4 linked regions of the Homo sapiens genome follow. The protein of the gene in region 4 purifies or fractionates together with the protein of the main gene of each other region. This does not show direct contact. Each region holds a gene or a part of one and is shown on either strand. Other genes may lie near its edges. The genes, in order: KIF13B, ZBTB21, COL4A4 and FGD6.

What was found.
Region 1: the proteins of FGD6 (region 4) and KIF13B purify together in Homo sapiens (affinity purification with mass spectrometry, with the first as the bait; one large-scale study listed by BioGRID). This does not show direct contact.
Region 2: the proteins of FGD6 (region 4) and ZBTB21 purify together in Homo sapiens (affinity purification with mass spectrometry, with the first as the bait; one large-scale study listed by BioGRID). This does not show direct contact.
Region 3: the proteins of FGD6 (region 4) and COL4A4 purify together in Homo sapiens (affinity purification with mass spectrometry; one large-scale study listed by BioGRID and IntAct). This does not show direct contact.

What each region holds. Positions count from the first base shown.
Region 1 is NC_000008.11:29,253,025-29,256,594, reverse strand, and holds part of KIF13B (kinesin-like protein KIF13B), read left to right. Parts: intron 1-3,570. UniProt on the Homo sapiens protein: Involved in reorganization of the cortical cytoskeleton. Regulates axon formation by promoting the formation of extra axons. May be functionally important for the intracellular trafficking of MAGUKs and associated protein complexes.
Region 2 is NC_000021.9:41,989,824-41,993,393, reverse strand, and holds part of ZBTB21 (zinc finger and BTB domain-containing protein 21), read left to right. Parts: coding exon 1-2,499; 3' UTR 2,500-3,570. UniProt on the Homo sapiens protein: Acts as a transcription repressor.
Region 3 is NC_000002.12:227,157,660-227,161,229, reverse strand, and holds part of COL4A4 (collagen alpha-4(IV) chain precursor), read left to right. Parts: intron 1-3,570. UniProt on the Homo sapiens protein: Type IV collagen is the major structural component of glomerular basement membranes (GBM), forming a 'chicken-wire' meshwork together with laminins, proteoglycans and entactin/nidogen.
Region 4 is NC_000012.12:95,102,424-95,105,993, reverse strand, and holds part of FGD6 (FYVE, RhoGEF and PH domain-containing protein 6), read left to right. Parts: intron 1-907; coding exon 908-987; intron 988-3,570. UniProt on the Homo sapiens protein: May activate CDC42, a member of the Ras-like family of Rho- and Rac proteins, by exchanging bound GDP for free GTP. May play a role in regulating the actin cytoskeleton and cell shape.

The sequences.
Region 1 (3,570 bases), on a different chromosome or scaffold from region 4:
TGTGCAGGATAAACTGGAAGCATAAGTCTTGATCTTCCATCAAAGGAGCTCCCAGTCTTGTTGATAATAAGATGCACATGTGAGTTCATTGGAAGAATATATGTACCTAGTGCACTGATGGCAGCCAATCATGAATTAAAGAAATGGGGGTGGAATTTGAGAACAGCACAGAAGACAGCACAAGCAGGCCCCTTGGCTCCAAGTTCCACCGGGGTGACGTGGAGGAATCCAGATGGGTGCTGCACATACAGTGGGTTTGTGTCGGCATCTGAGGATCACTGAACTTGGGGAATCCGCTGCAAAGTCTCTGATTTAGATGACTAGGTGAATGCTGGTGTCATTAACTGAATCAGAAGCACAGGAGAAGCAGGTTTTAGGGTGGAGGTGTGGGAAATGATGAGTTCTAGTCTCAGTCAACAGTGTGTCGTCAGTGCTTATGTGCTGTGTACCCTGCCTGCAACTATGAATAAGATGCAGTGTGTGCCTGGAAGCAACTCAGCACAATTGAGTTTTAGGTGTCTGAAGTGCAGCCAGGTGGATGGATCCAGAAGGCCATTGTGAATATGAGTCTGAAACGAAGGGACTGGACGTAGGTGTAGATTTCGGAGTCATTACTGTAGGTAGAAGATAGAGCACCTCAGGTGTGTCTGTGACAGAGGCGGTCACAGAGGCCAAGAAGAGCAACCTCAGGAGAATCAGGTGAAAGCAATGTTGTGGATGCCTAGGGAGGAAAAATGTGTCAAAAGAGTGAAAGGTGAAAGCAATCACATGTCACAGGAATGGCCGCGTGATTAACACAGAATTGTGTTCAGTGGATTTGGCATTATGATGGTCAGTGTTCATTTTCAGGATAATTTCACTGAAACGAATTAATTGGTATTGGGCATTGGCAGTGGGCTGAGGAGTGAGTGGGCGTGCCAGTATGGAGGCAGCGAGTCTCAAGAACATTCCTCTGAGAAACTCCAGGTAGAAGGGGAGGGTTCAGAGTGGTACCTGGAGGGGTAGGTACCTTTTTTTAAAAAAAAAAGTTTTGGGGAGATATTTGAACCTTGTATAGATAGAGCCAATAGATAGAAGTTTTTGAAATATGGGAGGAAGAGAATAATTATATAATGGGAAAGCCCAGGAATTTCAAGCTTAATTTTCTTGATGGGGTAGAATGTGAGGTTATTGAAAGTAGGAGGAATTGGGTGAGCTGGGGTCTTCTGAGTAGTGAATGTGTAGGAATGTGGTTGAAGGACCCTAACTGTATTTTCTATCTATTGAGGGTACTGGGGTCATCCATTCCGAGTTTTTTCTTCTTGGTTTTTAGATATAAGTCACATCCCCAAAGTGTACCATTCACTGGGTTTTAGTTTACTCACAGACTTGTGCAGCCATTATTAGTATACAATTCCAGAACATTTTCATCACCCCACAGAGGAACCTTGTAACTGTTAGCAGTCAGTCTCCATTTCCCACTTCCCAGCCCCTGGCAACCACTAATCTACTTCCTGACTCTATGGATTTGCTTATTCTGGACATTTAATACATGGAATCCTATATTATGTGGACTTTTGTATCTCACTTCTTTCACTTGGTATAATGTATTCAGGGCTCATCCATGTTTTGTCATGAATCAATACTTCATTCTTTTTATAGCTGAACAACATTCTGTTACACAGATATGCTGTGTTTTGTATTCATTCATCAATTGATGGGCATTTGGCTTGTTTCCAATTTTTGGCTATTATGAATGATGCTCCTTTGAACATTTATGTACAGGCTTTTGTGTAGACATGTGTTTTCATTTTTCTCAGATACGCATATGTATAGGAGTGGAATTTCTGAGTCATATAGTAACTAACTTTTGAGGAACTGTTTTCCAAAGCATATGAACCATTTTACATTCCCATAGAAATGCATGAAGGTTCCACTTTCTCCACATCCTCACCAACACTTGTTCTTGTCTCTCTCCATGAGTATTGCTATCCTAGTGGGTATGAGGTGGTATCTGATTGTGGTTTAGATTTGCCTTTCTCTGGTAGATAATGTTGAGCGTCTTTTCATGTGCATATTGGCCGTTTGTATAGCTTGAGAGAGATCTCTATTCACATCTTCCCCTTATTTCAAAAACTATATCTTTTTATTACTGAGTTGTAAGACTTCTTCATACATTCTGTATACCATTCTGTTATCAAATAGATGATTTGCAAATATTTTGATTTTATGGGTTTCTTTTTCACTCCCTTGTGTCCTTTGATGCATGAAAGTTTTAAATTTTGATGAAGTCCAGTTTATTTTTAGTTGCTTGTGATTTTGCTGTGATTTCTGAGAAACCATTATCTAACATCATGTGGATTTTCATTTGTTTTCTTCTAAGAGTTTGATAGGTTTAGCTCTTACATTTAGATCTTTGATCCAGTTGGAGTTTTGAATGTGGTATGAGGTAGGGATCCAACTTCATTCTTTGGCATGTGGATATCCAGTTGTTCTAGAACCATTTGATGAAAAGACTGTTCTTTCTCCATTAGATTGTCTTGGTACCCTTGTCAAAATCAATTGACCATAACTGTGACAGTATGTTTCTGGACTCCCAATTCCATTCCATCAATGTATATATGTCTTTCCTTATGTAAGTACCACACTGTCTTGATTACTCTACCTTTGTATTAAGTTTCGAAACTGGGAGTCAAGTCCTCTGACTTTGTTTTTCTTTTTCAAGATTGTTTTGGCTATTCTAGTTCTGCCTTAAGCGGGTTTTTTTTTTTTTTTTTTTTTTTTTTTGAGACAGTCTCACTCTTCTCACCCAGGCTGGAGTGTAATGTCGTAATCTTGGCTCACTGCAGCCTCTGCCTCCCAGATTCAAGCAGTTCTCCTTTCTCAGCCTCCTGAGTTTCTGGGATTACAGGTGCCTGCCACCCTGCCTGGCTAATTTTTGTATTTTTGGTAGAGATAGGGTTTCACCATGTTGGCCAGGTGCCTTATGAGTTTTTTAAATACCTGTTTCTTAGTCTTCTGAGGTTGATTGGTTTCTTTTTTAAACTGTTTATTTGTTTAGAGATGGAGTCTCATTCTGTTGCCCAGGCTGAAGTGCAGTGGTGTGATCATAGCTCACTATGACCTTGACCTCCTGGGCTCAAGATGTCTTCCCACCTCAGCCTCCCAAAGTGCTAGGATTACAGGCATGAGCCACTGCACCCAGCTGATTCATTTCTTGAGTATGAACATTTTATGTTTTTGGTCACATAGGATTATTTTATTTGTTTTCAGATATGGGGTCTTGCTCTGTTGCCCAGGCTGGAGTGTAGTAGCACAATCATAGCTCATCACAGCCTGTAACTCATGGGCTCAAATGATCCTTCCATCTCAGCCTCCTGAGAAGCTGGGCTACAGGTGCATGCCACTACACCTGGCTAATTATTTTTTTTAAATTTGTTTTAGGGACAGGTTCTTGCTGTGTTGCTCAGGCTAGTCTTGAACTCCTGGCCTCAAGTGATCCCCCTGCTTCAGACTCCCAAGTAGCTGGGGGATTATTTTAATTATTTTCACACTATCACATCTCCTCTCCTAACCTGGCATCTCATTCTT
Region 2 (3,570 bases), on a different chromosome or scaffold from region 4:
GTGAAAAGAAATGCAGTGTTGCCTTCAAAGCCTCTGCAAGACAGAGAAGCTATGGATGATAAACCAGGTGTGAGTGGTCAGCTTCCAAAAGGAAAAGCTCTAGAGCTGGCTTTGAAGAGACCACGGCCACCTGTTTTGTCTGTTTGTAGCTCATCAGAGACTCCCTATCTATTAAAAGAAACTAACAAAGGAAATGGTCAAGGTGAAGATAGAAACTTGTTGTACTATTCAAAGTTAGGCTTAGTGATCCCATCCAGTGGATCTGGTTCTGGAAACCAAAGCATTGACAGGAGTGGCCCACTTGTTAAGAGTCTCCTCAGACGGTCATTGTCGATGGATAGCCAGGTTCCTGTCTATTCACCTTCCATAGATTTGAAATCTTCCCAGGGATCATCTTCGGTGTCCAGTGATGCACCAGGGAATGTGTTGTGTGCTTTATCTCAGAAGTCATCTTTAAAAGATTGTAGTGAAAAAACAGCCCTAGATGACAGGCCTCAAGTGCTACAACCGCATCGCCTCAGGTCCTTTAGTGCTTCTCAGTCAACAGACAGGGAGGGAGCTTCCCCTGTGACTGAGGTGCGCATAAAGACTGAGCCCAGCAGCCCGCTGTCGGACCCCTCGGACATCATCCGCGTCACTGTGGGAGATGCGGCAACAACAGCAGCTGCCTCATCTTCGTCGGTCACAAGAGACCTGTCTCTGAAAACAGAAGATGACCAAAAAGACATGAGCAGACTCCCAGCAAAAAGGAGGTTCCAAGCGGACCGAAGATTGCCGTTTAAGAAGTTAAAGGTGAATGAGCACGGGTCTCCTGTGTCAGAAGATAATTTTGAGGAAGGCTCAAGCCCTACTCTCCTTGATGCAGATTTTCCAGATTCTGATTTGAATAAAGACGAATTTGGTGAGTTGGAGGGGACGAGACCAAACAAAAAATTTAAATGCAAACATTGCCTTAAGATCTTTAGATCAACAGCAGGTCTTCACCGTCATGTTAACATGTACCATAACCCAGAAAAGCCCTACGCTTGTGACATCTGTCACAAGAGGTTTCACACCAACTTCAAAGTGTGGACACACTGTCAGACCCAACACGGCATAGTGAAGAACCCATCACCAGCCTCTAGTTCACATGCTGTTTTGGATGAAAAATTCCAAAGAAAGCTGATTGACATAGTGAGAGAGAGAGAAATTAAGAAGGCCCTGATCATTAAGTTAAGGCGCGGCAAGCCTGGTTTTCAGGGACAGAGTAGCTCCCAAGCACAGCAAGTCATCAAGAGGAACTTGAGATCTCGAGCCAAAGGAGCTTACATTTGTACTTACTGCGGAAAAGCGTACCGCTTTCTCTCTCAATTTAAGCAGCATATAAAAATGCATCCAGGAGAAAAACCCCTTGGAGTAAATAAAGTTGCTAAACCAAAAGAGCATGCTCCTCTTGCAAGTCCAGTAGAAAACAAGGAGGTTTACCAGTGCCGCCTCTGTAATGCTAAGCTCTCTTCTCTCCTAGAGCAAGGAAGCCACGAGCGGCTGTGCCGGAACGCGGCCGTCTGCCCTTACTGCAGCCTCAGGTTTTTCTCGCCCGAGCTGAAGCAAGAACACGAGAGCAAGTGTGAGTATAAGAAGCTGACCTGCCTCGAGTGCATGCGCACCTTCAAGTCCTCTTTCAGCATCTGGCGGCACCAGGTTGAAGTCCATAATCAGAACAACATGGCACCCACCGAAAACTTTTCTTTGCCCGTTTTGGACCACAATGGTGATGTGACTGGTTCTTCAAGGCCCCAATCCCAGCCTGAGCCCAACAAAGTAAACCACATCGTCACCACAAAAGACGACAACGTGTTCAGTGATTCTTCAGAACAAGTTAACTTCGACTCGGAAGATTCCTCTTGTCTTCCCGAAGACCTTAGTCTTTCCAAGCAACTGAAAATCCAAGTCAAAGAGGAGCCTGTGGAGGAGGCTGAAGAAGAGGCACCCGAGGCCAGCACAGCCCCCAAAGAAGCGGGTCCTAGCAAAGAAGCCAGCCTGTGGCCCTGCGAGAAGTGTGGGAAGATGTTCACGGTGCATAAGCAGCTGGAGCGTCACCAGGAGCTTCTGTGCTCTGTGAAACCATTTATTTGTCACGTGTGCAACAAAGCTTTTCGCACTAATTTTCGACTCTGGAGTCACTTCCAATCGCACATGTCTCAGGCTTCAGAGGAATCGGCACATAAGGAATCTGAGGTGTGCCCTGTTCCCACAAACTCTCCCTCTCCACCACCTCTGCCACCGCCACCACCACTGCCCAAGATCCAGCCTCTGGAGCCTGACAGCCCCACAGGCCTGTCCGAAAACCCAACTCCAGCCACAGAAAAACTGTTTGTGCCCCAAGAATCAGACACCCTTTTTTACCATGCCCCACCCCTTTCAGCAATCACATTTAAAAGACAGTTTATGTGTAAACTTTGCCACAGGACATTCAAGACTGCATTTAGTCTTTGGAGTCACGAACAAACACACAATTGAAAGACCAACACTTTTTACCTATGGGAGGCAGTCCCCAGATTTCAACCTGAATTGTGAAATGTGTCATAAGAAACAAAATATTTTTTAAACAAGAATAATAAAGGTTGGAGATTGTTACGCTTGAAATTAAGTTGGAGGCAAATTGATAATTACTTAGTAATGTCCTTAACTTTAGAAATACAGCTTTTAAAATATTGTGGTTCTGGACCTTACAAGAACAAGATGGTTTGATTTCATTAATGTTGAAATTGGATTAGTCTTGATTGTGTGCATGGTTCCTCATTCCATGGTGTCAGTATAATCATTTAATTGAGGTTTTTGGTTTTTTATTGATTAGTGGAATACTGTCGAAGTATTCCTTCTTTTAATTATTTTAGACACTTGAGTTCTAGTTAAATCTTAACCATGTTCTTAAGTCCAAAATAGGAAGAAGTGGAGTAGTTTGCAGTATTGATTTATATCTTAGACTACTTTAGCAATAAAAGATAAATCTCAACTTTAATAAGTTATCCTGACACTTGATAAAAATAAATATTTGGTATTTTGTGGTCATGTAAAACTTCTTTTTGTATGAAAATTGTGAGAAATTTAAATCAGCAATAGTAACACTTAGATTTTTATAAACTAACAAAAACTTGCTCTCAGTCAATATAATAAATGATAGTTAAACTCTAAGGAAGACCTGGGAAATGAAAACAATTTATGGAAGTCCCCTACAGTCAGTTTATAAGGGCTTCAGTAGTGATAGACATTGTTATAAAAACTTGTACCATGTTACATGTACACTGCACCACAGTCTAAATTCAGACCAGCATTTGAAGGACTGCACATATTTCATTTCCTCTGATTTATGCTGTCACAAATTGAAAATCTGAGTGTAGTTAGGACAAAAAACAAAGCTAACCATATGGCACTAATTTTGATTTTAACATTAGTGTAACAAATAAGGTCGGGACATATATTTACATAGATCCCAGACACTCAAGAATTAGCACAGCTGATGTAAAATTCTAAATTACCATTTACTTCCAGATAGAGCAGAGGAGAAACACCTCACTGCAGTTTCAACAT
Region 3 (3,570 bases), on a different chromosome or scaffold from region 4:
GGGGCCATTTTTGTGTTCTTTACTGATGTTGAATGAATGAGTGAGGCTGTTACTGTTTCCTGAATGAATTAATGAAAGCACAAATGAAGTTGAATGACTTGTCAAATTCACCCAGCATTCACACTTAGTCTGGTTTCTTCCTAAGTTCATGATCTACCTCTAGCCTTCATTGTAGAGGGACGAGCCTCTACTTTTAATGAGATACAAGATACACCTCTTATGCTGCCCACAGCTGCTTCATTAATCTTGTTTCATTTCATCTCCCCTCTTAGCCATCCTTTTCCTTTTAAGAACTTTCTCTTTTCCATACCTCTGAAACAATTAGGCTCTTGGGTGCTTTTAGAATCTGAGTGATTACCAACTCATATCATTTCTTGCCATTGCATCTCTGGACTCCTCTTCTGCTTCTCTAAGTTCGTGGCTCCTGCCTTGCACTATCATCTGTGGATTATGGTAGCTATCTAGCTAGTTTTCTGTCCTGCAGGCTTTCTACTCTGAAACTCATCTTCTATGTAATTATCAGAGTTACCAATTAAAATTGCAAATTATGCTAGCAAGGACAGGTGACTTTAGAGGCAGTTACAAACAATCCCCCCAGTCCAGAGGCTTATCATTATGGAAGTTTTCTTATCATTTCTACTACATATTCATCACGGGACATGGGGAGGTGGGAATGGGGTGGGGGTCCTCTGTTTATTGTAGCCACTCAGGGACCTCCTGGAAATTCCCTCTCAACATCTTCTCTAATCACCTCAGAAGGGGAAGAGAATGTGCTAAAGTAAAACTACCCTTCAACCTTCCTCCTAGATGTGACACAGGCTACTTCTACTCACATTTCACTGGCTAAGTGGATCACGTGATCATGCTTTATTCTGTAAGGGGCAGGGAAATGAAATCTACCACATGCCTGGAAAGAGTGGGAAACAGGTGGCAAATGTCAGTAATACTCATCACACACATCGTGCCACTTGTTTGTTTAAAAGCTTCCAGAAGTTCCCCTTTAACTTCACAACTGATTTCACATTTCTTGGAATAGAATAGTGTGGTCTCAAGTCAACATTTTTGTTTTATCTCTTGTGTCATCCCAAGCTTTTTATGATTTCTCTGGTTCACTATACAGACTTCCTCACCTCACACCTTCGTATTTACTATTGCCTCTGCCCACAGGGACCTCCTTCTTGGTCTGTCTTCTACAACTACCTGTGCTTTAAGATCTAGGTCAAGGATTAAAGAGCATGGTCCCTGTGAACACCTTTGTCCAGAACTTTATTATATAGCACAGAAATAATATGTGGTGATTTGTTGTTCTATATTACAAAGCCTTTGAGGGAATGTTCAGAGATTATTTGTTAAGTGTATTAGTCTGTTCTCATACTGCCATGAAGAATCACCTGAGACTGGGTAATTTATAAAGAAAAGAGGCTTAATTGACTCACAATTCTGCATGGCTGGGGAGGCCTCAGGAAACTTACAATCATGGTGGAAGGCACCTCTTCACAGGGCAGCAGGAGAGAGAATGAGTGCTGAGCGAAGGGGGAAGCCCCTTGTAAAACCATCAGATCTCATGAGAACTCACTCAGTATCATGAGAATAGCATGTGGGAAACCACCCCCATGATTCAATTACCTCCCACTGGGTCCCTCCCATGACATATGGGGATTATGTGATTACAATTCAAGATGAGATTTAGGTGGGGACACAAAGTCAAACCATATCATTAGGGAATCTAAAAAGTATATTTCTTGAGGTATAATCTATGTTCCATAAATTGCATCCACTTAAAGCATGGAATTAAAAAAGTTTTGCCGATGCATCCACCCTATGAAACCACCACTGCCCATCAAGCTGCAGTATTTTTCTATCACTCCCAGAAGTTTCTTTCTGCCTCTTTGCTATCCATCCCTCTTTCCAAACCCCATCCTCAGACCACTACTGATCTGCTTTCTGTCACTGTAGACTTCATTTTAGTTGGCATTTTCTAGAATTTTGTGTTGACGGAATTATACCGTGTATACTATCTTACATCTGGCTTCTCTGACTCTGCATAGCAATATTCAGATTCATCCATGTTGTGTAGATTAGGAGTTTGTTATTTTCTATTGCTGAGTAGTAGTCCATTGTGTGGAGATCACACTTTGAAAAAAAGTCCATTTACCTATTTTTGGGAATTTGGATTGTTTCCAGTTTGGGGCTACTACAAATCAAGCTACTATGAATATTTTTCTACAAGTCTTTTTGTGGGCATGCATTTTCATTTCTCTTAAGTAAATACCTAGGAATGAAATGGTTAGGTCATATGGTAGATGTACATTTAATTATAAAAGAAATAGTTTTCCAAAGTGGTTTTATTCTACCTTCTCAATGCAAGGTAGAATACCATGCATAGGAGTTCCAGTTGCTCCATATATTTATTTTGCTGTTAATTTTTTAATTTTAGCCATCCTAATGTTTATACAGAAGTATCCCAGAGTGGTTTGCATTTCTCCAATAACTAACGATGTTGAATATCTTTTAATGTACTTATTGAACATTCATGTAGCTTCTTTTGTGAAGTGCCTATTCAAATCTTTTTTCCGCTTAAAATTTGGCTTTTTATCTTCTTATTGTTGAATAGTAAGAGTTATTTATATATTGTGGATACAAGATCAATGTTAGATACAAGTATTGTGAGTATTTTCTCCCATTCTGAGAATTGTCTTTTCATTTTCTTATTATTTTTAAGAAGCAAAAGTTTTTATTTTGATGGAATATAATTTATAATTTTTTTCTTTTGTGATTTGTGCTTTTCTTGTTACCTGAGAACTCTATACCTATGCCAAAATTGCAGAAATTTTCTCCTATGTTTTCTTCTTGTGTAGTATTGTTACTTTTACCTCAATGATCTCTTTTAAGTTAATTTCTGGGTATGGTATGAGATAAGGATTCATTAAATTTTTTTTCCATGTGAATATCCACTTGTTGTGGCACCAGTTGTTGAAAAGACTTTTTCCCCCACTAAATTGCCATGATTGCCATGGCACCTTTGTGAAAAATCAATTGATCATCATGTTTGAGTCTTTTGGTTCCATTTATCTACATGTCTATTCATTTACCATCATTCTTATGACTAGTTTTTTAGCAAGACTAGTGTAAGTCCTTCAACTTTGTTGCTTTTTATAAAAATTGCTTAGGCTATTCTAGGTCATTTGCATTTACATATATATGGATTTTATTTGTTAATATTATGTTAAGGAGAGTCATGTTTATATTCACAAGATATATTGTTCTGTAGTTTTCCTGTAATATCTTTGTCAGTTTTGGTATCTGAATAATGCTAGCCTCATAAAATAAGTTGGCCAGCACTCTCTTTTTTTCTATATTCAGAAAGAGGATATAAAAAAACTGGTATTATTTTTTCATTAAATGTTTGATAGAATTCACTAGTAAAGCCACCTAGCCCTGAAGTTTTCTTTGGGGAAGGTTTTTACTTACAAAATTCATTAATTATAAATTTAATTGCTATAGGGCCATTTAAATTTTCTATTGTTTCTTATGTCAGTTTTGATAATTGATGTCTTTCACAAAATTATT
Region 4 (3,570 bases):
CTGTTACCCAGGCTAGAGTGCAGTGGTGCGATCTCAGCTCACTGCAACCTCTGCCTCCCGAGTTTGAGAGATTCTCCTGACTCAGCCTCTTGAGTAGATGGGACTACAGGCTCAGCTAATTTTTGTATTTTTCACAGAGACGGGGTTTCACTATGTCGGCCAGGCTGGTCTCAAAGTCCTGACCTCAAGTGATCCACCCACCGTCGCATCCCAAAGTGCTGAGATTACAGGCGTGAGCCACTGCGCCCTGCCTGTTTATGCATTTGATTATTCATTCATGTAGTCATTTGTTCACTCATGCATTAATGTATTCATAGGATATTTATTGAGAACTACTATAAACAAAACAGTAATGGGTTTGGTGGAAGATATGAAGATAAGTTGAAGCATGATTCTTATTGTCTTTCCTCCCCCAGGGACTTAGCAACTAGTTGGGAAGACAGTACACTACACGTAAATACCTATAAAGTAGACAGTAATAAATATCACTATAAAGGCACAATTACAGTTTTGGGAATTCAGAAAATAAAGAACTTGCAGTGTTTGATGGTCATGGTGGGGACTGGCCTGTAGCTTTTGAGAGCAGCTAGGAAAGAAGGAGAAAGAGGAGGAAGAGCCAGTGGACCTTAAAGTATAGGTCACATTTGGCCATGCTGAGATGTAAGGGAAAGGCATTCCAGGTGGAGGGCATACTGTGAGCAAAGTCCTGGAGGTGGGAAAGGTGGGCTGGTGTGTGGGCTTTTCAATTCATCTGAAGCATAGAGTAGATGAAGGAGAACAGCAGTAGAGAAAGCTGGATAGGAAGATTGGTTGTGGATGTAAGCAGCCAGGGCCATTGGACAACTTCAGCTCATTGATATGGTTTTCAGTAGGATGAGTCGGCTCAAATTGTTGTGCTTTCTTCCAGGTCAGAAAACCTACCCAAGAAGCCTATCAGAATGAATTAAAGATTGAAAGTGTAGAACGTTCCTTCATTCTCTCAGCCAGGTAAATTTTTTCTTCTTCTTTTTTTTTTTTTTTTTCTCATTCTGAGTCTGCTTGCTAGGGAATGTCAGGAAAATTTTGGTTTTTGGTTTTTTTTGAGACAGCATCTCACTCTGTCACCCAGGCTGGAATGCAGTGGCACAATCACGGCTCACTGCAGCCTCCACCTCCATGGCCCAAGCAGTTCTCCCACCTCAGCCTCTTGAGTAGCTGGGACCACAGGCATGCACTACCATACCCGGCTAACTTTAAAAATATTTTTTTGTATGCCAGGTGTGGTAGCTCACCCCTGTAATACCAGGACTTCGGGAGGCTGAGCTGGGCAGATCACTTGAGGTCAGGAGTTTGAGACCAGCCTAGCTAACATGAACATGATTAAACCCCATCTCTACTAACAATACAAAAATTAGCCAAGTATGGTGGCAGGCACCTGTAGTCCCAGCTACTCAGGAGGCTGAGGCAGGAGAATTGCTTGAACCCAGGAGGCGGAGGTTGCAGTGAGCGAAGATCCCACCACTGCACTCCAGCCTAGGTGACAGAGAGAGATTCTGTCTCAAAAAAAAAAATTTTTTTTTTAGAGATGGGGTCTCCATATGTTCCCCAGGCTGATCTTGAACTCCTGAGCTCATGCAATCTTCCCACCTTAGCTTCCCAAAGTGCTGAGATTACAGGTGTGAGTCACTGTGCCGGCCTATTTTTAAGAATACATAAACATAGATTTTTGTGAGTATAACAGGGAAAGATATTGCCAACACTTTTTGCACTTAGGTTAGCTACTGACTTTTTGTTCTTCTTTTTCTTCTTTCCCAATACCGTGCAGTTTTACTCTTGATTTACCATGCAAGGAAGTGGCTGAGAGCAGAGGCAACAGTATGCTAGAAGCACAGAGATTAAAATGTTCTTCTGAATAGAATAACAATGGTGAAAGTGCTTTGCTGATCATTTTTTAAGTGGCTATTTCAAATTGTTTTTAAGAACAACTAGTGCTTTATAGGTTATTAGGAAATTTGTAGGTGTCACTTAAAGGTTCTAACAAACCTATGAGGTAGGTGTAATCTCCTTCTAAAAATTAGGAAACTAAATTACAGAAAAATGGAGTTGCTGTCTTACGGATACATATTTGACACAGCCAGGATGCAAATCGAAGTCTTTTGCTTTTAAGTCCATTGTTATGGGCTGGGTGCAGTAGCTTACGCCTGTAATCAAGCACTTTGGGAGGCCAAGGCGGGTGGATCACCTGAGGTCAGGAGTTTGAGACCAGCCTGGCCAACATGGTGAAACCCCATCTCTACTAAAAATACAAAAAAATTAGCCAGACATGGTGGCATGTGCCTATGATCCCAGCTACTTGGGAGGCTGAGGCAGGAGAATCACTTGAACCTGGGTGGTGGAGGTTGCAGTGAACCGAGATCACTCCACTGCACTCCAGCCTGGGTGATAGAGCAAGACTCCATCTCAGAAAGAATGGAGGGAGGGCGGGAAAAGAAATCCATTATTATTTATGATACCACCTTGCCCCAGACCGGAACCTGCAGTGACTTAATATGTTGCCATAATGTAATTCAAGTGCTGAGGAAACCTGAAACTCTATGACTCATAAAAATACATTACTGAGTTACTGACTGAGTGGCGGAAGTGGGTATTTGGGAAGGTTTGACTGGTGAAGGGAGAGATGCCAATAGTCATAGCATGCTCCACTGCACAATCTAAATAATGAGACACTGTCTTCTCAGACCTAACCTTTGATCTAATAAAAATAGAAGCAAACGCTTTTGTAACACTTACTGTATGCCAGGCACCATCATAAAGACTTTATGTGTAGTACTTCGTTTCATCTTCACAGCAACCTGTAAGGCAAGTTGTCGTTATTATACCCATTCTATGCTGAGAAAAGCCACTCAGCTATACTAGCAGAGCCAGGATTTGAAACCAGGCAGTCTGTTTCCAATTGTCCATACCACTGAAATCAACTAGGATCTTAGGAGCAGGTGGAGTAGTGGCCAGAATCATTTATTACTCTGCATCAGTCACAGTGCTCATGTTTCGTTTTATATTTATTTTCTCTTTTAAGTTCTATGATAACTTTGTGGGGTGGATATTATCTTGATCTTCCAGATTAGAAAAATGGAGGCTCAGAGAGGTTCAATAACACATCTAAGGTTACACGAGTAGTAAGCAGTGGAGCTGTGATTTGAACCTAGGTGTTTCTGACAACCTTTATAATTTTGCTTACGTCCATGAATGTCAAGGACTCAAACCAAATGTCTGACTTCCCAAAATCAGAGGACCACAAGAGTCATCCTGGGGTGTGCTACTCCTCTGAAATGCAATGGCTACTGCTGCCTGACATACAGGATGACAGGAGAAGACAAATACCTGTGTCTAGGGTTTGTCAAATGCTTCGCAGCTAGCAGTCAGAACAAGCAAATTTCTTGGGGGTACCTGAAGCATCCACCAGATACCAATATTTAGAGAGTGCAGGTAAACTCTCAATCACTTAGCATTGTGACTTTTTCTTTTCTTTTCCTTTATTGTTGTTGTGTTTTTTTTTTTTTTTTTTTTTTTTGAGAAAGGGTCTCGCTCTGT